Linked DNA regions of Homo sapiens. The protein of the gene in region 4 interacts with the protein of the main gene of each other region in a pairwise test. Each region holds a gene or a part of one and is shown on either strand. Other genes may lie near its edges. The genes, in order: PLIN2, MEP1B, TIMM44 and SFT2D2.

The links.
Region 1: the proteins of SFT2D2 (region 4) and PLIN2 interact in binary tests that used the Homo sapiens proteins (3 or more experiments, as listed by UniProt).
Region 2: the proteins of SFT2D2 (region 4) and MEP1B interact in a protein complementation assay, tested with the Homo sapiens proteins (one study listed by IntAct).
Region 3: the proteins of SFT2D2 (region 4) and TIMM44 interact in binary tests that used the Homo sapiens proteins (3 or more experiments, as listed by UniProt).

The regions. Positions count from the first base shown.
Region 1 is NC_000009.12:19,117,491-19,124,513, forward strand, and holds part of PLIN2 (perilipin-2), read right to left. Parts: intron 6,158-7,023; coding exon 6,075-6,157; intron 3,676-6,074; coding exon 3,390-3,675; intron 2,342-3,389; coding exon 2,160-2,341; intron 966-2,159; coding exon 831-965; intron 1-830. UniProt on the Homo sapiens protein: Structural component of lipid droplets, which is required for the formation and maintenance of lipid storage droplets.
Region 2 is NC_000018.10:32,193,017-32,200,039, reverse strand, and holds part of MEP1B (meprin A subunit beta isoform 1 precursor), read right to left. Parts: intron 4,634-7,023; coding exon 4,555-4,633; intron 4,214-4,554; exon of another isoform or gene 3,073-4,213; intron 1-3,072. UniProt on the Homo sapiens protein: Membrane metallopeptidase that sheds many membrane-bound proteins. Exhibits a strong preference for acidic amino acids at the P1' position. Known substrates include: FGF19, VGFA, IL1B, IL18, procollagen I and III, E-cadherin, KLK7, gastrin, ADAM10, tenascin-C.
Region 3 is NC_000019.10:7,940,660-7,948,631, forward strand, and holds the start of TIMM44 (mitochondrial import inner membrane translocase subunit TIM44), read right to left. Parts: upstream 3,008-7,972; 5' UTR 2,993-3,007; coding exon 2,948-2,992; intron 539-2,947; coding exon 443-538; intron 1-442. UniProt on the Homo sapiens protein: Essential component of the PAM complex, a complex required for the translocation of transit peptide-containing proteins from the inner membrane into the mitochondrial matrix in an ATP-dependent manner.
Region 4 is NC_000001.11:168,235,987-168,243,009, reverse strand, and holds part of SFT2D2 (vesicle transport protein SFT2B), read right to left. Parts: intron 6,422-7,023; coding exon 6,386-6,421; intron 6,299-6,385; coding exon 6,240-6,298; intron 3,880-6,239; coding exon 3,850-3,879; intron 510-3,849; coding exon 470-509; 3' UTR 1-469. UniProt on the Homo sapiens protein: May be involved in fusion of retrograde transport vesicles derived from an endocytic compartment with the Golgi complex.

The DNA.
Region 1 (7,023 bases), on a different chromosome or scaffold from region 4:
CACCTTATTGCCCTTTCACCTAGTTTATTCACCCATTAGTTCTCAGCTTACCATTCATCTCTTCCAGAAAGCAATGTGACTCAACTACCCCCACTCCAAGGCTGCCTGAGATAGTCTTCCCATATGTTTTCTTTTTTTTTTTTTTGAGACAGAGTCTTACTCTGTTGCCCAGGCTGGAGTGCAGTAGCATGATCTCGGCTCATGGCAACCTCTGCCTCCCAGGTTCAAGCTATTCTCCTGCCTCAGCTGCCCGAGTAGCTGGGACTACAGGCACGTGCCACCATGCCTGGCTCATTTTTTGTATTTTTAGTAGAGACAGGGTTTCACCATGTTGGCCAGGATGGTCTCGATCTCCTGACCTCGTGATCTACCCGCCTCGGCCTCCCAAAGTGTTGGGATTACAGGCGTGAGCCATCGCGCCCAGCCAATAGTACCTGTATTTATGCCGTTAAACAACAACCGGACTTGGCTACTCTGAGTGTACTGCCTATGAGATAGCCCTCTTCTGCAAGGAGCATTAAAAAGGCACAAAATAGGACAGCATGGCTGGCTGTATCCCCTGTTAGTCTGTACCCATTATGAGGGCAAGGCCTGTGTTTCTCATTTAGTTGTATCTCACTTGGGGCATATGTATACTCATAGGTTGTTAGATAAAATTATTCGCTGCCTAGTTTTGCTTTTCTGCCACATAACTAGCCACCTATGTACATGGTATTGTTCAACCTTTTGATAGAGAAGAGTATTCTAAGACATAGTATGGAAAAATTGAAATGAAAAGTCTGATAAGAACTTCTTCAGCAACCAACAAATGACCGTCCCAGTCATCTTACCTCAGCACAGTGGGACTCATCAGTATCATCATATCCAATGCTCCTTTTCCACTCTACCCATGAGAGGTAGAGCTTATCCTGAGCATCCTGAATTTTCTGATTGGCACTATACACATTCTTCCTGGCAAATTCAATCTAGACACATTGAAACAAGACAAAGGAACACACAAGTCAGATATTCACGTTAGCCTGTTTGCAGATGTATGATGTAAATCAGGCAACATAAAAACTAAGAATTTCCTGGAGTTGAATAAGATCTATTCCTGCTATCATTATTATTTATTATCAATATGTGTAAATTAACCAAGCAGTAGTAGCTCTTTACTGCCTCTATTTAACTATTAAATCACTGACTCCACATTTACTTCCAGTTTAGCACAGGTAAAGCAACTAAAAAACTACAAAAAATTTTTTTTGAGTGTCACTCTGTCACCCAGGCTGAAGTACAGTGGCGCGATCACAGCTCACTGAACCTCCTTCTCGTGCCTTAGCCTACCGAGTAGCTGGGATTACAGGCATACGCCACCATGCCCAGCTAATTTTTGTATTTTTAGTAGAGACAGGATTTCACCTTGTTGGCCAGACTGGTCTCGAACTCCTGACCTCAGGTGATCCAACCACCTTGCCCTCCTAAAGTGCTGGGATTATAGGCATGAGCCACCACGCCCAGCCAGCAACTAAAATTTAATGTGTACATGAGTAAAGGATAAGTTAGCATTACAAAACAGAAAGGAATTTGACCTTCCTCTTCCCTGTTGCCAACCACTATTTCCCCTTCTAAGAAGAAATGGTTTTCTCATGGCAGTACAGAATGGTACATACTGTTCTTTAACTTGGAAACCTTTAATGGCTACACAGTAGTCTATTGTGATATATCAATTTAATTAGTCCTGTTAGTGGATGTGCATTGTTATAGTCTCTTGCAACTTTAAACAAATATACACATCTGTAAGATAAAAAGTAAAACAGCTCCAAGTGTAGGTATGCTTGTAACTTTACTAAAACTGTCTCTTGAATCAGTCCCTTAGAGCAAGAGCTGCACAAGTGTGGTTCTTTCTCTACACCGTTGCCAACAGCCACATTTCCCGTGTGGCAGGACAAGAGAGATGTCAGTATTTGACCCCTCAGAGCGAGATTAGCATTGCTTCCTATATTTCAACTAGTTATACTTCCTTTTTCTGTGAGCTGTCTCCATATTCTTTGTCCAGTTTTCTATTGGGTTGTTTGTCAACTAAGAATGAAATTCTTGGATTTTGTGATTACATTTAATTCTTGGGCCTAGAGATAAATGAACCCACTTCAGACACCTTAAAATAAAGTTTTACTCACCAGGTGAACAGTAGAATGGAGCTGAGAAATGGTCTGTTGGCTTTTTTGCTTAGCTTCTTTAACCCTGCTGAGAGCCTGCTGGTAGGCACGGGAGTGAAGCTTGGTAGACAGGGATCCCAGTCTAACATAATAACTTGGCTTCTGAACCAGATCAAATCCTTCAACTTTTTTTGCTTCTTTTTCTGAAGTTAGAAATAAGAGACAAAAAAACTTAAGGGATCACAGTGACAAGTGATAAGGCCTGGACTCTAACCTGGGTCTTGACTTTCTTACTTCTACCCAATCACTTAGCAATCATGCAGTCATTTTTCCAAGACTGCTCACGTCTGCTGCTGGACTTGACTACCCTGAACATATTACTGTATCTGATACACACTGCATGCATCTACACGTTTCTCCCACTAGAGTAAACTGCTTTTTTTTTTTTGGAAACAGGTCTTGCTTTGTTGCCCAGGCTGGAGTACAGTGGCACAATTTTGGCTCACTGCAGCCTCAACCTCCCGAGCTCAACTGATCCTCTCACCTCAGCCTCCCGAGTAGCTAGGACTCTAGGAACAAGCCACCATGCCCAGCTAATTTTTGTGTTTTTTAGGGTTTCGCCATGTTGCCCAGGCTAATCTCAAACTCCTGAACTCAAGCGATCTGCCTGTCTTAGCCTCCCAAAGTGCTGGGATTGTAGGCATGCATGCACCATTGCTCCCAGCCTAGAGTGAACTTGAGCGGCATGGTACCTGGCACACATTACCTAATGATGATTCTTTGTAAGGAGGATTTTATAAAGCAATCCATTAAAGACTATCCATTTACAGAAAATATTTTTCAAGGCCAATTTTTGCTAAGGTTTCAAAACTTACTACGTACGATTCAATGTGAACTTTATGATTGCTTTAGGAAGGAAAATCTATAGAGGCAAAAAGATTAGTGGTTGCTCACATCTGTAATCCCAGAACTTTGGGAGGTCAAGGCAGGTGGATCGTTTGAGCCCAGGAGTTCGAGATCAGCCTGGGCAACATAGTGAGATCCCATCTCTATAAAATTAAATTAAATTAAAAAGGACTGACTGCAAACAGGCATGAGGATCTTTTGGGGTAGCAGAAGTGTTCTGAAACTGGATTGCAGTGATGCTTGCACAACTGTGTAAATTTAGACTCAAGATGAGAGTATATGTCAATGAAGCTGTTTAAGAAAGATTTAATATAAAACAGTATTTCAAGATAAAATTCCAGTTACCTAGTTCTTCCTCAGTGAGAGGGAGGTACTGTTCTACCAACAGCTCTGATTTGGTGAGTGCATTTTCTACGCCACTGCTCACGAGCTGCATCATCCGACTCCCCAAGACTGTGTTAATGCTGCCACTGACCACAGACTTGGTCTTCTCCACACTGCCAGTCACTGCCCCTTTGGTCTTGTCCATCACCCCTGTGATCGTGCTGGCCACAGAATCCTTGGCCCCAGTCACAGTAGTCGTCACAGCATCTTTTGCCCCAGTCACAGCGCCTTTGGCATTGGCAACAATCTGTAAGTAGAAAAGCAGATCCCCTGGCTGGTGAGAAAAATGAGCACAAGGACATACCTAAGGTCTTAACTAAGGCAGCACAGCTGAAGAGTTAAAGAAGGAATCTAGTCCTCTCACTCTAGCTTTAGGTCTTGGGCAAGTCACTAAGAGTTGATGAGCCTGAATTTCCCTATCAAGTATATCTGCCCTACCTGCCAATCCTTGGGAATTGCAGGAGGAGCAAATGAAGTAAACAGATATGAAATTTGTCTGTTTGCCAAGGCTGCAGTGAGCTGTGATTGTGCCACTGCACTCAGCCTGGGTGACAGAGCAAGACCCTGTCTCAAAAAAAAAAAAAAAAAAAGAGAAGAGAAAAGAAAAAAAAAGAAAAGAAAAGAAGGTAAGTTATATAGCTTATTCCAAAGTCACACAAATCCAGAGAGGAAACTGAAGATCAAACTATACCTGGCCCTCGGGGTGTTATTAGTATGCAGTTATTATACATGGCAGGGCATGGTGGCTCATGCCTGTAATGCCAGCACTTTGCAAAGCTGAGTTGGTTGGATCACCTGAGGTTAGGAGTTCGAGACCAGCCTCACCAACATGGTGAAACCCCGTCTCTACTAAATACAAAAAATTAGTTGGGCGTGGTGGCACATGCCTGTAACCCCAGCTACTTGGGAGACTGAGGCAGAAGAATCACTTGAACCCCAGAGGTGGAGGTTGCAGTGAGCCAAAATTGCACCATTACACTACAGCCTGGGCAACAAGAGCAAAACTCTGTCTCAAAAACAAACAAACAATGACAAAAAAAATTAGCTGGGTGTGGCGGGGCGTGCCTGTGAACCCAGCTACTGGGGAGGCTGAAGCAGGACAATTGCTTGAACCCAGGAGGAAGAGACAGCAGTGAGCCGAGATTGTGCCACTGCACTCCAGCCTGGGTGACAGAGCAAGACTCTGTCTCAAAAAAAAAAAAAAAAAAAAAAAAAAGAACACAAGTTACCAACATTTAAAGAAAATATCCGAAATGGAAAATAACTCTCACCATTAGCACAGTCTCAAGCAATGTAAGTGAAAAATTTAAAAGATTTGCACAAGCATTCTAAAGGCTATACACTAAACCTACCTATAGTTGTGTACCACATAATATTTTGGTCAGCGATGGACCACTATTCAATGATAGTCCCATAAGATTATAATGAACTGCCCTATAACAGGTATACTTTTTTTTTTCACTGTACCTTTTCTAGTTTAGATACACGAATACTTATCATTGTGTTACAGTAGTCAGTGTAGTCATGCTGTGCAGGTTTGTAGCCTAGAAGCAAGCAACAGGCTATATACCATATAGCCTAGGTATATAGCAGGCTATACACCATATAGCCTAGGTATATAGCAGGCTATACACCATATAGCCTAGGTATATAGCAGGCTATACACCATATAGCCTAGGTATATAGCAGGCTATACACCATATAGCCTAGGTATATAGCAGGCTACACCACAAGTCCCTAACCCCCGGGCCATGGACCATTACCAGTCCATTACCAGTCCATTACCAGTCAGAGGCGGCATTAGATTCTCATAGGAGACCTAACCCTAACCCTCTTGTGAACTGTGCACGTGCATGCTCCTTATGAGAATCTAATGATAAATATAGTGCACTTGAATCATCCCAAAAACACCACCCACCCCCTGCTGGTCCATGGAAAAACTGTCTTCCATGGAACCAGTTCCTGGTGCCATAAAGCTTGGGGACCACTGGGCTCTACCATCTAGGTTGGTGTGAGTATACTCTGTGATGTTCACACAATGGCAAAATCACCTAATGTGCATTTCTCAAAATATATTCCCATCACTAAGTGACAGATGACTGTATTTAGATTATGAAAAGACACAGAGCTATATTTTTCCCTAACTGGTATCCTTTTGTGCCATTCTGTATTCTTAATTTGAAACAAAATTTTAGGACATTATCTGAACCAAAGGATCACCAGGACAGACAAGCCTATCATTTTTGTCAACACTGGCTAGCTATCCCATATGGATGGTAGTTCCTGGCAGCATTGTACAAGCCAGGTGAGAAAAGGTTATATATATCACGTCTGCATTTATTTAATACCACAAGACAATCAGTTACTTGAGACAGCAATTTCATTTATAGGAGCAAAGACACAAACTGATAGACAACACACTAAAAGTTTTCTAATCCAAAGGAGGCTAGTTCTTCTCTGCTTCGTAGATACAACTTGACAACAGTTCAGGAAGTAAGGAAGTGGCCATTATTTTTCAAACATACATCCAGATCCAGGTTGGGAAAACAAGTATTTGCCTGTTTGTGATATGTACAGCTTGTTTTAACAGATAGAAGATGAAAACATGTGAAGTGTCAAGTCTCAGCACTTTTGTCCCAAGCTCACCTGAGTTGATGGCTGATTCAGAATAGGCAGTCTCTCCTCAATCCTGTCTAGCCCCTTACAGGCATAGGTATTGGCAACTGCAACTAGAATCACAAATGGGAAAATGTTAATGTAGTACTATAGGTATAGAATGAACACACATTACCATAGGCCTTATAAAAAATGGCAATAATGGGCTGGGCACGGTGGCTCACGCCTGTAATCCCAGCACTTTGGGAGGCTGAGGCAGGCGGATCACGAGGTCAAGAGATCGAGACCATCCTGGCCAACATGGTGAAACCCCGTCTCTACTAAAAATACAAAAATTAGCTGGGCGTGATGGTGTGCGCCTGTAGTCCCAGCTACTCAGGAGGCTGAGGCAGGAGAATCGCTTGAACTCAGGAAGCAGGGGTTCCAGTGAGCCAAGATGCATCATTGCACTCCAGCCTGGGTGACAGAGCAAGACTCCATCTCAAAAAAAAAAAAAAAGGCAAGAATGTTGATCTTATACAACAGAAGGCATTGCCTGGTTTATCTAGTTCTGACAGGAAGAGGCCTGGCAAGTTGCTGGCAACTCTCTTCTAAAGGTAAGGAAATATGGGGGTGTGAGGGAGGAGCAGGCAGAGGCAGTGACAGGCCAAACAGGAAGCTGGCTCTGAAGCTTCTTCCTTATCAACTGGCCCCTAATGTTAATGCCAAGAGTAGCCGGGCTTTCCCTGAACTGTCATTCAGAGAATAAGGTATCTGGAAACTCTCTCAAAATCGGCATTCCCATGCTAGTTTAATCCCTACCTACGCTTACTTCAGCACAGGTCAGTGTATTTGGGGTCCTCAGGAGGAAAGAGTATGCCAAGACCACCCTGGATCTCCCTAACAAGGGAGATTTTAGTGTGAGCTTCCCACTAAGAATACCAAACCAAGTACTAGTACCAAATTCATTTAGGAAGTAGCAGAGTTGGAATGGCTGGTC
Region 2 (7,023 bases), on a different chromosome or scaffold from region 4:
GGCAAAAAAAAAATAGCCTAAGATATATATAAAATTAAAGCTCCCTAATCTTTCATGGAACATACTTAGGAGAATAAGTTTTTTAAAAAAAGAAATATAACTGGATGTGGTGGCTCACGCCTGTAATCCCAACACTTCGGGAGGCCGAGGTGGGTGGATTGCCTGGTGAAACCCCATCTCTACCAAAAATACAAAAAATTAGCTGGACATGGTGGCATGCATCTGTGGTCCCAGATACTTGGAAGGCTGAGGTGGGAGGATCATTTGAGCCTGGGAGGCAGAGGTTGAAGCCTGGGTGATAGAGTGAGAACTCGTCTCAAAAAAGAAAGAAGGAAGGAAGGAAGGAAGGAAGGAAGGAAGGAAGGAAGGAACGAACGAAAGGAAAAAAAGGAAGAATTAAAACAAAAGAACTTAAAAATTTTTTAATCAAAAGACTAAACCAAAAAAACATGTATATTCAAAATCTTTCAGGTTCCTAATTCCAAAAGTCAATGAACATCTTTCTCTCCTCATGCCCCCTGTGCTCTTTATGGCTTCCAACCCCGCTAACTACTCCTGCCCTGGCTTTCCCTACCCTACTGTTAGTTTTTTATCTATGTTTCTGGCCAATTCCCCCTTCTCAATAACTTCCACTAGATCTTCCTTCTATACCAGTTCCAAAAAATGGCACTGAGTTTCATTCTCGACCATCTTCTTACTTATTCAACACAACCTTCCAGGATAAATCAATAAAATCCAGTTATCTATGGAGCACCTGCTCTATGCAAGGCACTGTGTGAAATGCTCATCCATACTCACGGCTTCAACCATCTCTTACATCCTAATAACTCCCAAACATTTCTCGACCTTGAATGACCAGGTCATATACCAAGAATTTATTTGGTATCTCCACCACAGTGACTCTGATGCATTTCAAATTCTGCATGCCAAAAACTAATTTCCACCATGCTTCTCTGTCTCATGCTCCTCAAGGTTAAATTCTCCATTCTTGTTGAAGACGTTACCATGCCCTCAGCTACCCAGGACTGAATCCTGAGCACTAGAATCTCTTTCTCTACACCCACCTTCTTCTTGACCTCTTACAGTCAATCACTAAATCTAACAAATGCATCCCAAATAGCTTTTAGATTTATCTTGGTTAGGAATCTCTTAATTCTTTCTCTGAATTTCCTCAGTAGTTTTCTAACTGGTCTCCCTATCTTCTTTTTACCCCACTAATGACACATCTTCTATACTTCAACCCAAGTGATTATTTTAAACTGCAATTTTAACAATCTCACTTCCACAATAATACTTTTGGTGGCCCCATGTTATTAGTATACACGACAAGTTCTTTAACACCGGGAAGACCCAAGTCCTTCCCCATTTGCGTTCCGCCTACCTGCTCAACTTCCTAGCTCCCCACTCTCAATCTAAATTCCAGCTCAGGATTTTCTCCCTTCTTCAGGACTTAGCAGATCGTGATGCATCTGGCTAAAGCACCCTTCCCTTGCTATCAGAGGCCACACTAGCCCACATGGTGCCTGTGTGCCAATTAGGAAGAGGCACTACCTCTGAGCAGGTGCTGCAGTTGCTGGCTGGCCAGATGGGTGAACAGCACTTTCACACAAAGAAACAAATGCCTCCTGGTGAACAGAAAGAACGTAAACCTGGTATCAGCTCCACTTGTTTCCTGGCCCAGCCACCTGAGAGCAGCCTCTTGAAGCAGCTCTACATCATTAATGGCATTCTTCATTCATTTCTCTCAGTCAAAAAGTCTTGGAGAATCTGAAAGCTGAGGTGGCATGGCAGCACCAGCTCCAGGAGGTCATGTCAGTTGTACGGTGTACAACTTACACAGTCTTCATGGCAGTCCTGCTATATAGCGTCCTCTGCTTATAATGCATATGCTTTTCTATCCAGGTTGAGTTTACTGCCCCTCCAATGTGCTCCCATAGCTCTTTGAACACATCACTAATCATAATGTTTATTCCATTCTATCATAATTCACTTTTGATTTATGTGAGTCTCCACTGAAATGCATGATCTTTAAGAAAAATAGCAGGGTTTCCAAATACCATATGTTTTCCCATAAGTGGGAGCTAAATATTGCATAGACATGGATGTAAAGATGAGAACAAAAGACACTGGGGACTACAAGAGGGGAAAGGGAGGGAGAAAAGGGTTGAAGAAGCCACCTATTGGGTGCTATGCTCAACTCCTGGGTGATGGGTTCATTTGTACCCCTAACTTCAGCATCATGCAACACACCCATGTAACAAACCTGCACACGTACCCACTGAATCTAAAATAAAAGTTGAAATTTTAAAAAACTATAACAGGCTGGGTGCAGTGGCTCATACCTGTAATCCCAGCACTTTGGGAAGCCAAGGCAGGCAGATCACTTGAGGCCAGGAATTCGAGACCAGCCTGTACGACATGGTGAAAGCCCATCTCTACTAAAAATACAAAAATTAGCCAGGTGTGCTAGCACATGCCTATAATCTCAGCTACTCGGGAAGCTGAGGCAGGAGAATCGCCAAAACCTGGGAGGTAGAAGCTGCAGTGAGCCGAGATTATGCCACTGCACTCCAGCCTGAGATTGTGCCACTGCATTCCAGAGCAAGACTCTGTCTCAAAACAAAAAAAAAAAAACAAAAATGAAAAATAAAATTAAAAATTAAAAAACTATAGCAGGGTTTTTACTCAAACTTTTCCCAAACAGCAATTTCTAAGCTAATGCTGGTCAGTGGCATCATTGCCACTAGTCCATAGATTAAAATGAAGACCATGTTTAGAGTTTTCCAACATATTTAAATTTCTTCTATAGAAAAGCTGTTCTTAGTTTTGGATTTGATTCTTCTGACTTTTTAACATTTTAATACTACACTAATAACATTATTTACTGTATGAAAAGAGGATGATGAAAGCTCTTTTATCATGTTAGGTTGTTGTTTAAGTTCCTGACCTGGCAAAATAAAATGTTGATAAAACAATGCCAGTTCCTCAAATTTAGTTGGTTATTTTATGTATTTTCTCATATGTATAATTGATCATAGGGTAAACCACTGCTTTAAAATAAAGACTGGCTCCCTGTGAGCCCATCAATCAGGCCCTGCACCTGTTTAACCAAGTGTAGGGAGCAGTGCACGTGGAGATCTGAGCCTGCCTGCGCCTCCTTGCCCGCCTCCACTACATCATGGGCAAGTACGCAGAGGCCCTGAGAAGCCAGCAGAAGGCAGTGCTGATGAGCGTGCGGGTGATGGGCATCGAGCACCCCAACACCATCCAGGAAAACATGCACCTGGCCCTGCACTGCTTCACCAGCAGGCAGCTGTCCCTGGCCCTCAGCCTGCTGCAGGGCGCCCACTACCTCATGCGCTGGTGCTTGGGGAAGACACCCCGAGGTGGCGTGCTGGACAACATCAGGCGGGTGCTGCACAGGGTGATGGAGTACGACCTGTCGCTGTGCTTCCTGGACAACGCGCTGGCCGTCAGCACCAAGTACCAAGGGCCCAAAGCTCTCAAGGTGGCCCTTGGCCACCACCTCATCACCTCGGTCTATGAGAGCAAAGCTGAGTTTCCGGTCGGCCCTGCAGCACCAGAAGGAAGGGCTGGCTGCACACCCTCTGTAAGACCCAGCTGGGCGAGGACCAGGAGAAGACCAAGGAGAGCTCTGAGTACCTCAAGTGCCTGACCCAGCTGGCCGTGGCCCTGCGGCGCGCCATGCATGAGATCTACCGCAACGGCTCCAGCAACAACATCCCGCCCCTCAACTTCACAGCCCCCAGCATGGCCAGCGTCTTGGAGCAGTTCAAAGGCATCAATGGCATCCTCTTCATTCCTCTCAGCCAAAAAGACTTGGAGAGTCTGAAAGCCGAGGTGGCGCAGTGACACCAGCTCCAGAAGGCCAGCAGAAACAGGGATGAGGCCAAGGAGCCCAAGGCCACCGAGCCCGAGCCAGCGGGGGCACCAGAGGACCTGGGTTCCCAGCCCCGGGCTGCCAATGACCCTTCTTCCCCGAACTTGCAGGGATAGAGAGGGACAGGCAGATGGACAGTCAGTCAGTGGCCTCACTCACCAGGGATCCAGACTCTAGGAGAAAGGAGCATACCTGCCATGGGAAGAGGAAGCAAGGCCCTCTTCTTCCATGTTTCACCCTCACTGCACCCCCAGCAGAGCATCCTCCTGGGACCCTGGCCTGGCCTGTCTGCTCTCCAAAAGATGTTTTTGCACTGGTTCAATGAATATATGATGCAGAGCCCCTCCCCCACAAAAAAAGACTGGCTCCCTAATCGTTATGTCCCTAGCATAACAGAGTAGGCTCTCCATAAACGTTGGTTGAACTCATTGCTTTGTTGGTCAAGACACTGTAAATATTTCAGACAGAGTCATTTAGGTTACTTTCATTGTTCGTTTTGCTTATTTTTTTTTTCAAAGTAAATGTACATAGCCACACAAAGGAGCAAACCAAACAAAACCTTAAAGACTATATAAGCCCACCCTTTGAAACACTATAATCATATTTTGTCAGAAATAGACATTAGTTATGGATACTTCAAGGTGCATACTAACCCAAGCTATCTTCTAGAACATATGGAATGGTATGAGGCCATCTATACTTTTCTCCAATGATGGAATTTCTAATTTGTGCCTGTCAAAAATAAATGCAAAAGGGCTAGTTAAACAAATAAGGCAAACACTTAGGAAACCTGTAGTTAATCTAGAAATAAATGAAGTTTAAAGCTCTCCCAGTTCGCACAAACAAATTGTGTGTGTGTGTGTGTGTGTGTGTGTAGCCCTACTTTTATCATAATATAACAAAGTTTCTAGGAAGAAATTACTAATTTCTATCATTTTGTTAATACAGTTGAAGAAGGAATAATGCAAAAAATAACTGTTGGAAAACTGAACTACAAATATTGGTAGATTTATAGGTTAGTTTCCTACACTTAAAGATTAAAAATTTGCAAGAAAACAGTGATAGCAAGACCTTGATAATCTGGATCTCACAATATCAGAAAAAGTCACACATGAGCTGGGCCAAAGTTTTCAAAAATTTTTAAAGGATTTTAAACTGTATAATAGAAAATGAGTAATATTTTACTAATGTATTTACTCAGTCCACAAATTGAATATTGTCCTAGAGAATAGAGATTCCTTGGTAATAAAGGTCTCTGGCTTCATGGAGCTTATATCTAGTGGAGGACAGAAAGAGTATGTAAAAAAAAAAATGTTTAAGCAGGATGAATGCAATAGGGAGGAAATTAGAAAGAGAGATGTGAACAAGGGCACAGGGATGACGGAGTACATGAGATGGAGTGATCAGGACAGTCGTCTATGAAGGGATGATATTTAAGGGGAAATAGGGATCGCAAGACAGAGCCAGCATTGAAAGGGGTCCTGGGAAGGTGGTTTCAGGCAGAGGGAACATTAGTTGTTCTTGTTCTGAGGTGGGAATATGCCTGGGATGTTTTGAATATGTGTTGAGACCAGTAGCCTGATGAGTCTAAGAGAGAACGTGGATGAGATAAGAGGAGAGGAAAAGAGAGGAGAGGGGAGGGAAGAGGGGAGGACAGAAGCAGGAGCTAAGGCATGCTAGGCTTAGACAGCTGGGACTAAATCGGGAGATGATTCTAAACCCATAGGCAACTATGGAAGAGTTTCAAGCCAGGAGGTGAAATGAAGTCACTGCCTGTTTGAAAAATGACTTTGCTGTGAGAGATAAGGACAAGTAACAGGGTGGAAAAGATTATAGGGGAACAATATCTGAAATAGAAAGACAAATTAGGAGGCTAATGGAAAAAGCCAGGCAAGAGATGATGGGGCCTGAATTAGAGTGATGGAGAAAAGTGGACGATTTGCAGTGTATGTTAGAGCTAGAAATGATAGAACTTGCTGACGGGCTGGATGGGGAGTGAAGGAGAGAGGAGAAGCAAAGGTGGCGCTCAAGGTTTTTATGTGTTCAGTTGAGTAGAGTCAGGTTGTGAGGATGACTTTATGAAGACAGGAGAGTGGGGAGGAACAGTTTGGGGGGAAGGTCAGAGTTCACCTGATCAGAGGACACCTTAGGTTTGAGACGTCTTGTAGACATTCAAGTGGAGCTGGCAAATTAGTGCTTGGATAGACCAGTCTGGAGCTCAGGGAAAGGAGAGGACCAGAGATATGCCTTTGGATTCATTGGCATGGAGATGACATTTGAATCCCTGGACGAAGGTGAGATCAAGAGAGAGCACAGATAGAAGAGTAGGCTCAGGACTAAGCCTGGGAGACTGCAGCTCTGTTTCCTGGGGGTGGGAGGACTGTGAGGGATGTTGGTGCTTACGATATAGGAAGTAAGGGAGTGACTTAGGACTGTGTTGGAAGGAAGAGCAGAATTTTACAGGAAAAGATCTACTGGGTAATTTCTAGGCCACATGGTGTATATATTTTAAACTATGCTAGCTCTTCTCAAATTGCCTTCTTTCTTTTTTTCAAATTTATACACTCTCCAGTATAATAACATGTTCTAAACACATTCCTAAACAAGCATCCTAGTTTCTCTCTATCATCACCAAAAGGGATAGTAAGTAGTAAGTTTCTTAATATTTTTCAATCTAGTGGGCAATAAACTATATCTTGTCTTTTGAAAAATAGTGCTTATTTCCATGCTGTGAGAGAACACTGAAAAAAACAGTGCTTTCATGATAGTGAACTTTTTAGTCCCCCTAATCTACCTGCAAGGTTCTTGTGTTTATCTGTGTGGCATGATGACTTAGATGAGAATCAGCACTCTTTATGAATAGGTTTGGGAGGGTCTTAACTTGGCAACATTATTTTTAGCTAAGGCCAGGGTAGAAGTCACAAAATCTATTTATTGGGGTAAAAAGCCTGATTCATTGAAGATGTTTACAAATTCAGTTTAATTTTGCCTCCACTAGATTGAATCTGTGAGGTCCTATTTTAAAATCAAATGTCATATTGCTCCAATAATGAAAATCAATCAAATCAATAAGACTAAGACATATGTAATGAGTTATGGTGGCTTGAACCACACAGAAATAT
Region 3 (7,972 bases), on a different chromosome or scaffold from region 4:
CAACAGAAGCACAGTTGAAGAGGAATGACCAGGAGAAACTGAGGTCTGGTTGTGACAAGGTGACTCTGTACCAATGATCAAAGGGCTATCTTCTAGAAAAGGAAACAGCTATGCTTGGTGAGGTACCCACGGGCAGAGGTCACAGGGAAGTAGAATTCAGTTCAATACAGGGGTCTCTTCCAAGCATTAGAGCCAACATAAAGGGCTATTCTGACAGCACCTTATCCCCTTACGACATCAAGCAAGAGGCAGGTCAAGTGTTTCTGGGACCGAGAAGGCCAGGCACACTGGGATCTGTCATTCTGAAAGCCCCGGACACAGAAGGCCCACCACCGAGATGGTACGAGCCACCTCTACAGCCCCACCCCTCCCTCCTGCCAATGGGATCTGAATTTTCGGGCCTCCCCTGTGTCTGCTGGCCCGAGCATCCTGAGTCACTCACCAGTGGCAGCTCTCCGCCCGGCCGGCGCATCTGATAGGTCGACCCATGGGGTAGGTTGTGGCTGGAAAGAAATTGGATTCCACTGCCGAGGCATCTCTAATTGGGGGGAGAGAAGAGAAAGATCCATTCTAACAAGAGGTTGACTGAGAAGTAAGCAGACCACACACAAAACAGCAGGGTCACCTGCAACTCACTGGCCATTTTTTTTTTTTTTTTGAGACGGAGTCTCAGGCTAGAGTGCAGTGCTGCGATCTCAGCTCCCTGCAACCTATGCCTCCTGGGTTCAAGCGATTCTCCTGCCTCAGTCTCCCGAGTAGCTGGAATTACAGGTATGCGCCATCACATCCGGCTAATATTTGTATTTTTAGGAGAGAAGCGGTTTTGCCATGTTGGCCAGGCTGGTCTCGAACTCCTGACCTCAGGTGATCCACCCCTCCCCCGGTTTTCCAAAGTGCTGGGATTACAGGCATGAGCCACTGCACCTGGCCTCACTGGCCAATTTGTATCTTATGCCTGATGCATGCCGGGCACTCTGTAATCTTCCCAAAGTCTGAGAAGCAAGCAGAAGCTGGTGGAAAGAGAAAATGCTGTGTCTGTACCTCCAGGGCCTACATCTATCCTCGTGCCCCTGAAACTGGGGGAAAACGGACAGGTCCCAGGAAATGCCAACCCATGGGGGGAAGAAGGCTAAATGTACAATTTAATCCCTTAGTCTGAAAGTAGGCACTCTAAGCTTCTATGCTAGTGGCAAGCAGTCTTCTCTTGCGAGCCCACCCCATTTCTGCCAGCCTCCAAAGATGAGAGAACTGGATTTTTCAGACACAAACATCGATAATGTGTTGCCCCAGGGACAACTCTGGAATAAACCTACAATGTCCTCCTCAAGGGTTGAGCTATAAACAGAGTAATTTAGGGGAGTCGCTCTGGGCAAAGACTGGGCTGATCTCATGTAAAAGGCACTTGCTGGCTGGGCGCGGTGGCTCACGCCAGTAATCCCAACACGTTGGGAGGCTGAGGTGGGAGGATCACCCGGTCAGGAGTTCGAGATCAGCCTGGCCAACATGGTGAAATCCCGTCTCTACCAAAAATACAAAAATTAGCCGGGCGTGGTGGCACACACCTGTAGTCCCACACACCTGTAGTATTGCTTAAACCCGGGAGGTGGAGGGTGCAGTGAGCCGAGATCTTGCCTTAAGTTCTGTGCAGGCACTGAGCTGGTGGCTCATGCCTGTAATCCCGATACTTTGGGAGGCTGAGGCGGAAGGATCGTTTGAGCTCAGGAGTTTGAGACCAGCCTGGGCAACATAGCTAGACCCTGCCTCCATAAAAAATTGGGGGAAAAAAAAAAAGCTCTGTGCAGGTCCTGTTCAGCTCGGCACCCTGTCACCCAGCACAGAACCTGGCGTGTTGATGTCAAAAGACCAGGTACAACTTCTCCACCATTTCCACATTTCCTGGGCCGTTTTTCTCTCTGTTCTCTGCCTCCTACCTCTGAGAACCCTATGCAACATCCCAAACTTACACAGGTGCCTACTATCTCCTGTATTTACTTGAGGATAACTTTTTTTTTTTTTTTTGAGACGGAGTCTCCCTCTGTTGCCCAGGCTGGAGTAAAGTGGCAGGATCTCGGCTCACTGCAATCTCCGCCTGCCGGGTTCAAGTGATTCTCCTGCCTCAGCCTCCCAAGTAGTTGGGATTACAGGAGCGCGCCACCATGCCCGGCTAATTTTTTTGTATTTTTAGTACAGATGGGGTTTTAGTAGAGATGGGATTTCACCATGTGGGCCAGTGGATCTCGAACTCCTGACCTCAGGTGATCCACCTGAGGCTGAGGCAGGAGAATCGCTTGAACCCGGAGGCAGAAGGAGGCAGAAGTTGCAGTGAGCCGAGATCGCGCCATTGCACTCCAGACTGGGCGACAAGAGCGAAACTCTGTCTCAAAAAAAAAAAAAAAAGAGAAAAAAGAAAAAACGAAGAGCACGAGCAATATGAAGTACTACTTTCTGAGTGCGCCTTACACGTCTTGACTGCCACTGCCCTGTGGACCCAAGAGCCTGCTAGGGCGCGAACCACCTCTCGCACATCCACAATGAACGTTAGAAGAAACGAGACAAGAAATGCTCTCGGTAGAGAACTTGGCATTTAACCGCGAGCTGTGAATTTCACGTTTTTTTGCCTTCCCCTCTACTTTTTTCCACGGGACGCCGCCGCCCCGGCTACCATTCTCTCTCCTGTATACGTGGAGTCTGATCAGAGGGCGAAGGGTGATCAGCTCCCTCCCAGGTCCCGCGCATCGCCGCCCCCTGCCCGGTAAGCTCGGTCCCCGCCCTCAGGCCACGCTCTGTGCCCCCTGTCCTGGCCTCTGCTACCCAAAGATCTAACCCCAAGCTTTCTAAGGAGCCCAAGCAAGGGTCGCGAAGGCCAAGGGTCTGAGAAGAAAGCCTTGGTGGCCGAAGGCCCAGAAGACCCCTAAGCTCGCCCTGCCAGCGCCGCACCGCCGCTCACCCGTGGACAGCGGCACCAGCCACTCCGCAGGGCCGCCGCCGCCATGTTGGAGAATCGTGTGACCTTCTCGCGGCGCGGCCCGGTTGCGTCATCCGCCGCTTCGGCCTAGAGCCGCGCAAGCCTGAGAAAAGCCGCTCCAGGAGCGGGGTTTCGGGTAGGGAGAGCCCTCCGATTGGGTCCGTCATAGGGCGGGGCATTAAAAGGGTAGGGAATGCCTAGAGAGCTTGACCTCTGATAGGGCAGTGTTTTGGAAGGACGGGGCCCGTGACTGGATGTGGCCCGGGGGAGGGCACTCCTGGGAGGGTCAGATCTGTGATTGGGCGCGACTACGAGGGGGCGGAGCCCAGGGGCGTGTATTCCGTCACTTGCGGTGATTCGGCTACAGAACGCGCCGGGCGCTGGTGGCAGGTGGTACAGGCACGTGGATCCACCGACCACAAGGACGGATTCGATTGGATTCTGATTGACCGGCGGACCAGCTCCAGAGTAATTGTCTATGGCTGCCCCTGCAATGACTGATTGATTGACAATGGCTGAGAGACCAGCAAGTGAGTCGCTCCGAGAAAGCGAAGGAGCCCACTCTTGTGCGGCGCTTTGGGAAGACGCCTGTTGGTTTTGACCCCGAATAAGAAGAGGAAGCTGAGAGCGGGCTGACTGTGGTCCAGTCCTACTTCGATTCAGTGTGAACTGACACTCTGATCTGAAGACGCTCAGGCCTTTGTCATTTCAGCACCCCAGATGCTATTTTCCATTCGAAGAATGCCGCCACCAGGTGGCGGTATTTTAACATGGCCATGCAATCCGGGTATGAGGAGGAGGGTTGGTCCCCTGGGAGAGCTAATGTATGTTGCTGTTGCTGTTTGTCTTATTGGATCCTTTTTTTTTTTTATAGAGCCAGAGGCTTGCTCTGTCACCCAGGCTAGAGTGCAGTGTCGTAATCTAGCTCACTGCAGCCTCCAATTCCCAAGCTCAAGCGATCCTCCTGCCTCAGCCTCTGAGTCACTGGGATTACAGGCGTGAGCTACCGCACCCGGTCTTTTTGCATTACTAACCTGTGATATGGGTTTATGGGACTTCATTATTTCAAAGGGAGGCAGCTTGGCCCCGGAGAGCATGCATTCCTGGCTTCTGCGATGGATAGACTTGTGTTCTCCATCTCAGGAGCTCCCCCTCAAGGTGGGGGTAAGAGATGAGGGCTTCCACTCTGGCTTTGTTCGAGATGTCTTGATGCCAAGAGGAGCAAACTAGTTAAGCGGTTGGTGTACACAGGTGTGTTGCTAAGAATAAGGTCTGGGCTAGAAATATGGATTCTTAGTTGTGGTTGAAAGTACGGAGTTTGGCCGGGCGCGGTGGCTCATGCCTATAATCCCAGCACTTTGGGACACTGAGGCGGGAGGATCTCTCCAGCCCAAGAGTTTGAGACCAGCCTGGGCAACATAGTGAAGACCTCTTCTTTACAACAAATACAAAACATTAGCTTGGCGTGGTAGCATGTGCTTGTAGTCCCAGCTACTCAGGAGGCTGAGATGGGAGGATCGTTGAGGCCCGGGAAGTTAAGGCTGTAGTGAGCCGTGATCGTGCCACTACACTACACTACACTACACTACACTACCTGGGCAACAGAGAGAGACCTTGTGTCAAAAAAAAAGAAGAAGAAAGAAAGAGAGAGAGAGAAAGGAAAGAAAGAAAACTACAGCATTGGACACTCAGAGGCAGTGTGTCATATAAGCATGTCAAAGACCCAAAGATAAAGTGGAGATAGAAGACTCCTTTAAGCCAGGATCCGTGGCTCAGTCCTATTATCCCAGCAACTCAGGAGCCTGAGGCAGGAGCATCATTTGAGCCCAGGAGTTACAGACCAGTCTGGGCAACATAACGAGACCCTATCTCTACAAAAATAAAAAAATAAGCCAAGCATGGTGTCTCTCGCCTGGAATTCCAGCTACTTAGGAGGCTGAGGTGGGAGGATCTCTTGAGCCCATTAGTTAGAGGCTGCAGTGAGCTATGATCACCCACTGCACTCCACCCTGGGTGACAGCATGAGACCTCCATCTCTTTTTTTGTTGTTTTGAGACAGAGTCTCACTCTGTCGCCCAGGCTGGAGTGCAGTGGCACGATCTTGGCTCACTGCAAGCTCCGCCTCCCAGGTTCACACCATTCTCCTGCCTTAGCCTCCCGAGTAGCTGGGACTACATGTGCCTGCCACCACACCCAGCTAATTTTTTGTATTTTTAGTAGAGACAGGGTTTCACCATGTTAGCCAGGATGGACTCGATTTCCTGACCTCGTGATCCGCTTGCCTCGGCCTCCCAAAGTGCTGGGATTACAGGCGTGAGCCACCACACCCGGCCTTTTTTTTTTTGAGATGGAGTTTTACTCTTGTTGCGCAGGCTGGAGTGCAATGGCGCGATCTTGGCTCACCGCAGCCTCTGCTTCCCAGGTTCAAGTGATTCTCCTGCCTCAGCCTCCCAAGTAGCTGGGATTACAGGCATGTGCCACCACACCCAGCTAATTTTGTGTTCTTAGTAGAGACGGGGTTTCTCCATATTGGTCAGGCTGGTCTCGAACTCCTGAACCTCAGGTGATCCTCCCACCTCAGCCTCCCAAAATGCTGGGATTACAGGCATGAGCCACCATGCCCCCTCGAGACCTCCATCTCTAAAAAACAATTTTTTGTTGTTGTCGTTGTTTTGAGACTGAGTCTCAGTCTGTCACCCAGGCTGGAGTGCAGTGGCGTGATCTCGGCTCACTGCAAGCTCCACCTCCCAGGTTCATGGCATTCTCCTGCCTCAGCCTCCCGAGTAGCTGGGACTACAGGCGCCCGCCACCATACCCGGATAATTTTTGTATTTTTAGTAGAGACGGGGTTTCACCATCTTGGCCGTGCTAGTCTCGAGTCCTGACCTCGTGATCCACCTGCCTTGGCCTCCCAAATTGCTGGGATTACAGGCGTGTGCCACTGCGCTCAGCACTGTGGGAGGCCGAGATGGGCAAATCATGAGGTCAGGGGATCAAGACCATCCTGGCTAACATGGTGAACCCCCATCTCTACTAAAAATACAAAAAATTAGCCGGGCGTGGTGGCAAGTGCCTGTAGTCCCAACTACTTGGGAAGCTGAGGCAGGAGAATCGCTTGGACCCAAGAGGTGGAGGTTACAGTGAGCTGAGATCACACCACTGCACTCCAGCCTGGGCGACAGAGCAAGACTCCATCAAAAAAAAAAAAAAAAAGGAAGACAATCTGGAGGAACTTGGAGAAGGCAGATGGAAACAGCAGAGGCGAGTGCTGCACAGTTCAGGCAAGGCAAGGACAGAAATGTAGCCACCGCCATTGCATTTTGCAATATGGAGGTCATTGGTGAGATAAGCAAGAGGGGTTTTGGGTGAGTGGTGGGCCTGGGAGCCAGATTTCAGTGAGTGGAGATGGTTTTACAGAGGCATGCTGGGGCCAGCTTGCACTGACTCGCAAGAGCCAGCCGGCACATCTTCAAGAATTCAAAGCCTCTTGTTAAACATGGCCAATATGTAAACAATTAATTGTATAAACTTAAGATCAAATAGATTATATTAGAACAAAAGTAATAATGCAAAATTCATCACTTCCTAATTATGCTGCTACATGTTACTACTATCTGTGCTCTTGAGGGTTTTTGTTTTTGTTTTGAGACAGTCTCACTCTATCGCCCAGATAGGAGTGCAGTGGCACCAGCACGGCTCACTGTAGCCTCGACCTTCCAGGCTCAAGTGATCCTCCCACCTCAGCCTCCCGAGTAGCTGGGACTACAGACATGCACCATCACGCCCAGCTGATTTTTGTATTTTTTTGTAGAGACAGGGTCTCTCTACGTTGCACGGGCTGATCTCGAACTCCTGGGCTCAAGCGATCCTCCCACCTTGACCTCCCAAAGTGCTGGGATGACCAGCACAAGCCACAGAGCCTGGCTACTTTTTAAAATTTTTTGTAGAGACAGGCTGGGTGCAGTGGCTCACACCTATAATCCCAGCACTTTGGGAGGCCGAGGTGGGTGGATCACTTTAGGCCAGGAGTTTGAGACCAGCCCAGCCAATATGGTGAAACCCCGTCTCTATTAAAAATACAAAAATTAGCCAGATGTGGTGGTGCATGCCTGTAATCCCAGCTACTCAGAAGGGAGGCTGAGGCAGCAGAATTGCTTGAACCTGGGAGGCAGAGGTTGCAGTGAGCCAAGATTGCACCACTGCATTCTAGCCTGAGTGACACAGCGAGACTCTGTCTCAAATAAGTAAATAAATAATCTTTTTGTAGAGACAGAGTCTTGCTATGTTGCCTAGGCTGGTCTCAAACCCCTGGGCTCACTCGATCCTCCCACCTCGGCCTCCCAAAGTGCTGGGGTTACAGGCATGAGCCACTGCACCTGGCTTATCTTGGGGTTATTTACATATATGATGTCTGCGTGCTGGAAATACTATATTATGTGAGTCACTGCATTGTGTACCAGTTCTGTTTGATGATGCCATCTTTGTAGCTTGAAATCACCTACAAGCAGATCAGCCACAAGTGGTGGGAGTATTTACACCACAGGAATTGGCAGACATTCCAAGTCAGGAGCTCTTTGGTTGGTTTGTTTCTCTGGTGAGCCAGTTATTAAACATTTCACCAGCACAGCGGTGGTTGAGAATACTGGGACACAGAACACAGACTCTTCCCAGGAATATTCACTGTGCACAGAAGGTGAAATGATGGCAGCTGGAAGAACATATGGGAAGGAGCGAGAGTGCTTTGTTTTCCCCAACTTTTTATTTTGCAAAATTTCAAAGCTACAAAAAAAAAATTGCAAGAATAGTATACGAGGCTGGGCACGGTGGCTCACACCTGTAATCTCTGCACTTTGGGAGGCCGAGATGGGCGGATCATCTGTGGTCAGGAGTTCGAGACCAGTCTAGCCAACATGGTGAAACTGCGTCTCTACAAACAAAACAAAACAAAACAAAAAAACAAAAACAAAAATTAGCCGGGCATGGTGGCGCACGTCTGTAACCCAGCCA
Region 4 (7,023 bases):
GCCAGAGTAGAAGCAGACTCACTCTATGCAGGACCACGGTGATGGCTTCCATGCTGAGGGACAAGTGGACCCCAAAACTCTGTCCCTTACTGTTGCTCCCGTGATCTCTGATGGGGCTGCCTTTTGCCACCTGGGAATCACTTGCACCCAAGGCTTATGTGCTGTTGCTGAATAGGTTTGTATTCATGGGAATTCAGTGGGACAACATCCAGAGAGGAAACAGGTACATGAGGAAGATTCCACTCCACAAGATACAGAACCCACTTCTCATCCTGTGCTACTGACATTCAGGTTCGAGAATGTATTGTTGCTTCCAAAAGTAACCCTCAAATGTTCGAATCACAAGCAACACATTGCTGCAAGATAAAAGGCACATGTCTGTAAGACAGAGGTTTCGAAGATAGTTACAAAACTGTCCACCAGCTTCTGTCCATAGTGCCTTCCAAAGCTTCATAAAACTGGCCATGAATTATGCAAGACACACGGCAAAACACTTCTTCACAGCATCCCTAGGAAAGAAAAGACACAAAGATGAGTGGAACGTCATCACCCCAAAGGCACTCCTTTAGAGGGCACCCAGAGTGGAAGCTGCAGAGTAGAAAGCACCTAGACTGAAAGATCAGACCTTCACAGCATCAAACTGCAGCTTCAACATTTATTAGTAGTACTATCCTGGGAAAGTTCCTTGTCCTGTTTGAGTTTCAAATTCCTCATCTGTAAGAGGGGATGTCCCCACTTACCCGACAGTCTGATTATGGGATTAGCCATCATAATCAGAGAAAAAGATAACATAGACTGTCAGAAACTAAGAAATCAGTCAGGATTGCTGCACTTTAATATCGGTCAAAATCACAGAATGCACTGACAGCATTAAATCAAATATTAACTGGGACCTTTCTTCATTCTAAGCAGGCAGCAGAAGGGAGCTCACTATGGGTCCTGAGCACTTATTAATATGCTATAATGGCCTTATCACAGGTATTTACTGCTTGGAATTCAGTGTAGAGGGTGCAAGGAAGAGTTGGTCTTCAAGAAATTACTATTCTACCCAAGCAAGCACTTCCATTTCCACCACCACACCACACTGTGCAATGTGGCACTAGGCTTCTCATACCCCAGCTCTGTTCCACGTTCTCAACTGTGCTGCACTAAGGACATTGGGAGTCACATAAGGGAGGGAGAGGTGAATGGATGCATTTCCATGAGTAGGCACTGCATTTTAATATCAAGATGGTTCCAGGGCAGCATTTCTTGAGATATACTCTGCACTGTAGTCTCAGAAGAGTCTCTGCACAAGAAGGGTTTTATGGCCACATAAGTCCCCCTCATGGCAGCTCACAATACACATAGCATATGGAAGGATCTAGCAAGCCAGGCAAAGAGGAACCTACCTAATTTTGCTTAACCTGTTTCTCAAACTTACTTGATCATAGAACTCTTTTCTTCCACAGAAACACTATTTCTGTGGAACACTGTGGGAAAAGCTATTCCAGGGGAACTTACAAATAGAAGGGTGGGGCCAGGCATGGTGGTTCGGACCTGTAAACCCAGCACTTTGGGAGGCCGAGGTGGGCCAATCACTTGAGGTCAGGAGTTCGAGACCAGCCTGGCCAACACGGTGAAACCCCATCTCTACTAAAAATACAAAAAATGAGCCTGGCATGGTGGCGTGCACATGGAGGCTGAGGCAGGAGAACAGCTTGAAGCCAGGAGGTTGGAGACTGAGGTGAGCTGACATCGGGCCACTGCACTCCAGCCTGGGCCATAGAGTGAGACTCCATCTCAAAAAAAAAAAAAAAAAAAAGAATAGAAGGGTGGGATCTAGCTCTGTGATTCCCTCCCTACTAGAGGAGTAATTCGTCTCCTCAGCACATGAAACTCACTATCTCAAATAAAATTCCCTCATTCTATCAATCACTTGTACATAAATTTTATACATGCCAATCCAGATCAAGACTGAAGCTCTGACAAATGACTCCAAGCAAGTTTCACGAATGAGACCTGTGCAACTGCATTGGCCCCATACTCAGAAGGGTCCACATTGGGTTTAATGCCTTGATTTGATGTTGCCATCTTGAAATTCTTAATCTTTTTTTTTGAGACAGAGTCTCCCTCTGTTGCCCAGGCTGGAGGGCAATGGCGTGATCTCGGCTCAGTGCAACCTCCGCCTCCCAGGTTCAAGCGATTCTACTGCCTCAGCCTCCTGAGTAGCTGGGATTACAGGTGCACGCCACCACGCTCGGTTAATTTTGGTATTTTTAGTAAAGACAGGAGTTCACCACGTTGGTCAAGCTGGTCTTGAACTCCTGACCTCGTGATCCGCACACCTCAGCCTCCCAATGTGCTGGGATTATAGGCTGAGCTACCGTGCCCGGCCTATGATTTTTGAACAAGAAGCTCACATTTTTATTTTGCACTGGGCCCTGAAAACTATGCAGCTGGTTCAGGGACCAAAAAATATTCATATGTTGGCAGGTTGATCAATATCTCATTGGATCCTCAGTAATGATGAACTCCGGTTTACTTCACATAAAAATCTAGCTTCCCAGGACATCCCTGCCCATATTCTTCTCAGACAAGCCACCAGGCCCCAAAACCAGCCAGGTCTGCATGGAGTATTTCATAACTGTTACCCTCCTAGAATCTATCAACAAAGCCACTCAGCTGCCTTTCACTTGAAAGGCTTAACTTCGCATCCAATCAATCACTCCTCAATACTTTCAAATCACTGTCAGCAACAGTCTTGGAATTTGTTAAGACATAAGATTGCTCTTCCTCCTTCCCAAGTCATGCATAATTTTTCATTTCCTCAGTACTTTTTTTTTTTTTTTTTTTGAGACAGAGTCTCGCTCTGTCGCCCAGGCTGGAGTGCAGTGGCGCCATCTCGACTCACTGCAAGCTCCGCCTCCTGGGTTCACGCCATTCTCCTGCCTCAGCCTCCCAAGTAGCTTCGACTACAGGCGCCTGCCACCACGCCCAGCTAATATTTTGTATTTTCAGTAGAGACGGGGTTTCACTGTGTTAGCCAGGATGGTCTCGATCTCCTGACAGCAGGATCCACCCGCCTCGGCCTCCCAAAGTGCTGGGATTACAGGCGTGAGCCACTGCACCTGGCCCAGTACAGTTTTTTTAAAAAGCTTGTTTTTAATTAACAGGTAATGATAAAAAAAAAAAAAAAAGAACAGAAGTTAAATAGTTGCATTAGAACAAAGTCAGAGGCAAAGATCATGCGGCTAATTTTGAGAGGTCCGTCACTGAAAGTGCTTAAAGAGGTATGGAGTATTAGAATTTCAGAGCTAAAAGAGGCCTCTGGAGATGATCTAGACCAACTCAGTCTACTTATCGATGCTTTGAGGCCAGAGGGGTCAAGAGAGCTGCTCGAGGTCACACTGCTAATTAGGAAGCCCTGGTACTGCTTACTCTCCCTTTATAAACTCTTGTGAAACCTTCCCAGCAGTGGGATACTGCAAGAAGCACGAATTGAGATCCCTCCATATCTTACTCAGTGATATGAAATGACATTCACCTTTATAAAAAAAAAAAAAAAAAAAACCCTACTCAAAGCTACGGGTTAAAAGAGTAATAATGTGCATATATGCACCATATATAAGAGTAGAATGTTCACAGCATTGGAAATCAGTGTACCTGGGTAAATATCCATCATTAGTTGTATAATTAGAGTGGGTGGTGGGGTGACCTTTAACTTACTTATCTATAAATGAGATGTATAGTATTTGTCTACTTGACTCAAAAGACTTCAGTAAAGATAAATAAAATAGGCTATACTCTCTGAAAGCAGACTCTGAATTAAAATGACAGAAATCATTATTTCCAAATACACAGTCTTACCTTGCAAATGGTATGAAGGAAAGGCTGTACCTATAATGAAAAACAAAACAAAGGGTCAAATGAGATGAAGGGAGTAGCAGATTATCCAGCAGAATGGGCTTCTGAGCTGTAAGAATACCTGCAGTGATCTATCCAGACCCTCTCCCATACTCAGCCTGGGGGATGAGCATGTGCACACAAAGGCCCACGCATGTGCATGCACGTGTACCCAAACACACACACTATGGCCATGTACAGATAGGCAGCCACAGAAGAAGGGCAAAAGGTTCATGTGGAGATAACCCGTATGACCTCGGCCTCAATGCAGTACTGCTATAACCTTGAACTAGCAACAATCACCTTAAACAGTCAGATTTCAAATACCCAGATGGCACAGAAACTCTATTCTGAAAAAATATCAAATAAAACCCAGAACAGTTGAACCGCACCCCCCTCCTTTATTTATTTATTTATTTTTTTTTTTGAGACAGGGTCGTGCTCGTCACCTAGGCTGCTGGAATATAGTGGCTCAATCATAGCTCACTGCAGCCTTGAATTTCTAGGCTCAAGTCTAGGAAGCTCAAGCAATCCCCCTGCCTCAGCCTCCAGAATTGCTGGGACTACAAGTATGTGCCACCATGCCCGGCTAATTTTTTAATGTTTTTTTTTGTTTGTTTGTTTGTTTTTTTGCAGAGACCCGGTCTTGCTACACTGTCCAGGCTAGTCTCAAACTCCTGGCTTCAAGCAATCCTCCCACCTCAGCCTCCCAAAGTCTTGGCATTACAGTGTGAGCCACCCATACCTGGCACAGTTGAACTCCTAACATTTTATAAATTCTAAACAGAATTTAACTTCTACCTAATTGGGATAAATTTTCTGCTCTGCTCCTATTAATTTTAAAAGAAGAGAAAAGAGAATAAAAAAGAAGAAGAAAAAAATGCTACCAACTACTCTATGAGTGAAAATGTAGTACGTCCAAAGGTATCTTGGTAAATTCCAGTTAGCTCAGCCCTGTCACTTAGAAGGAAACCATATACAAGGAACAGGCTCCATAATGCTAAAGAACCAGGCACTGTGTGTCAGGCAGACTGTAAGTTAGCCCTTAGAAAAGCAAACACAGTCAGAACACATGAGTGTTGAAGGGAATATCACCATTCAGCTGGACCCATATGAATGCTGAACCTCTGAAACTGGATTCAAAATCAGTCTATAAGCAAAGCAAGGTGTGTGTATATAGGTACCAATTTCTGCCCTGGAAGAAAAATCAAAATATAAACAGTCTACCACTCAAATGTGCATGTCATTTAAAAAAAAAAAAAACATACACACACACACACACATAAACACAAACACCAGCATCCTTCTCCATATCTTATACTTAACATGTACAGAAGCTCAATTACTTGTCAACACAGTAAATTCCAAAAGGCAATTTGTAACTATATTTATTCAAAAGTCCAAAATTGCTAAAGGGAGGGATGGGAGTTAAGCTTACAGTCTCAAGATTCATTTCTACCAAATAGGAGTTAACCAATTCTTCAGAACTTTAAAATGTCCACAATCCTCCTTTCTTTACACTGTAGCAAACATTTTTTTCAAAAATAGGTGAGTCACATCTATACTGAAACTGTTCTGGCAGATACCATCCCTTGATAAACTTTGAAAGAACTACAGAAATGTCTTGGAACCTACAGATTCCAACTATGCCACCACCCCTCTCACTCTGAGGTCGTATAGGCTTGAAAGGACCATGAACCTACAGCCCCACTCATGGTTTCCCAAAATGTCTCCAGCGGCCCTTTTACTATACTTGGCTCTGGAGTTACAATTTCCTACTCTTCAGCTGAATTACCAAAAGCCAACAAGCCTCTGAGCACATACGCTGATCCTACAGCCCACAGACACACGTTTTTCCATTTCGTCAGTGACTGTTCCTCATCTCCTGCTGACAGTTCACTCTTTGTCCTTCTGTTAAATGATTCATTCTATCACAAATGTAACATTCATTATTTTTCTTACCACTTTCCTTTTTTGTTAACCTCTATTGGACTCACAAGCCTTTTTAACATCCCTTATAATACTTTTGTTGTCCTTGCACTTACCGGACATGAGTGGCTTAATAATATTTGTAACATCTCAAAAATCAACCATTAGTTCAGCAAAAATGCCACAGCAGGCAAACAAGGAGCCTCCTGTGACCACTCAAGACCACTAATGCCATCTATTGGCAGTGGGCTGGGTTGATAGGCATTTGCTCTGGAGCCTGACTTCACTTTCATCATTACGAATCCTTAAATTAAACAGCTTCTGTGTTTTCTTAATTCTCCCACCCACAATATGTGAGTTTTATCTCCTTTGGCTACATTATTCAGTGGGCTATGTGGGAGGGGATTGTTTAAAAGGTTACTTACCACGTCAATGCCAAAGACTGCAAAATGCAGAAGATAAGTGCAAGTCCCTTGTTATGCCACTGGAAAAATAATAATATGGTTATAGGAGAGTGTGAGACAAGGGGCAAAAGCCAAAATGGTTAAGAAAAATTAAAATATACATTTACCCAAAAGGCAGAACACAGGGTAAGTGCAAAACACAACTAAAGGAAGAAAGGAAACATTAATTAATGACAATAACATGGCAGGAAAAAAAAAACTCAAAACTTGTTATTCTTCACAAATGCACAAAACTTATGCATCCTTCATCTCAAAGCAGTTAACCCACCTGAGCACCCATATTTGGCAGAATAGTTAAAAATCTCCATGAAATCAAACTAGCCAATAAAGATTCACATAGATAAGATGTTCTTTTACTTTCAAGTTTTCCCAGAACCTCTGCCCAGCAAACAAATCACATTTCAGGCCCACCCATTCATCCGTCCATCCATCTTTTCATTCAAATGCACTAAAGTAAGCTTAACACAAATCTTTCTATTTTAACTCCTACCAAATGCTAGTCTCTGCAGCAGAAAGCACATGTGAGGACAAAGGTTAACCTGAGATATCAATCTCACAGTCAGCATGCCAGTTACTTGTGTACCTATCACCTAACACTTTCCCTAAGGCCATTCTTAGAAAGCTCTTTCTGCAAGAGACTTGTCCAGGCCGTGGGCATCTGAGGCTGGCCAAGGACAACTGGTGCTAGAGCAGTCAGCCATGCCTTTCTTCGCCATCCTTCTATAACAATAACTACTCAAATATG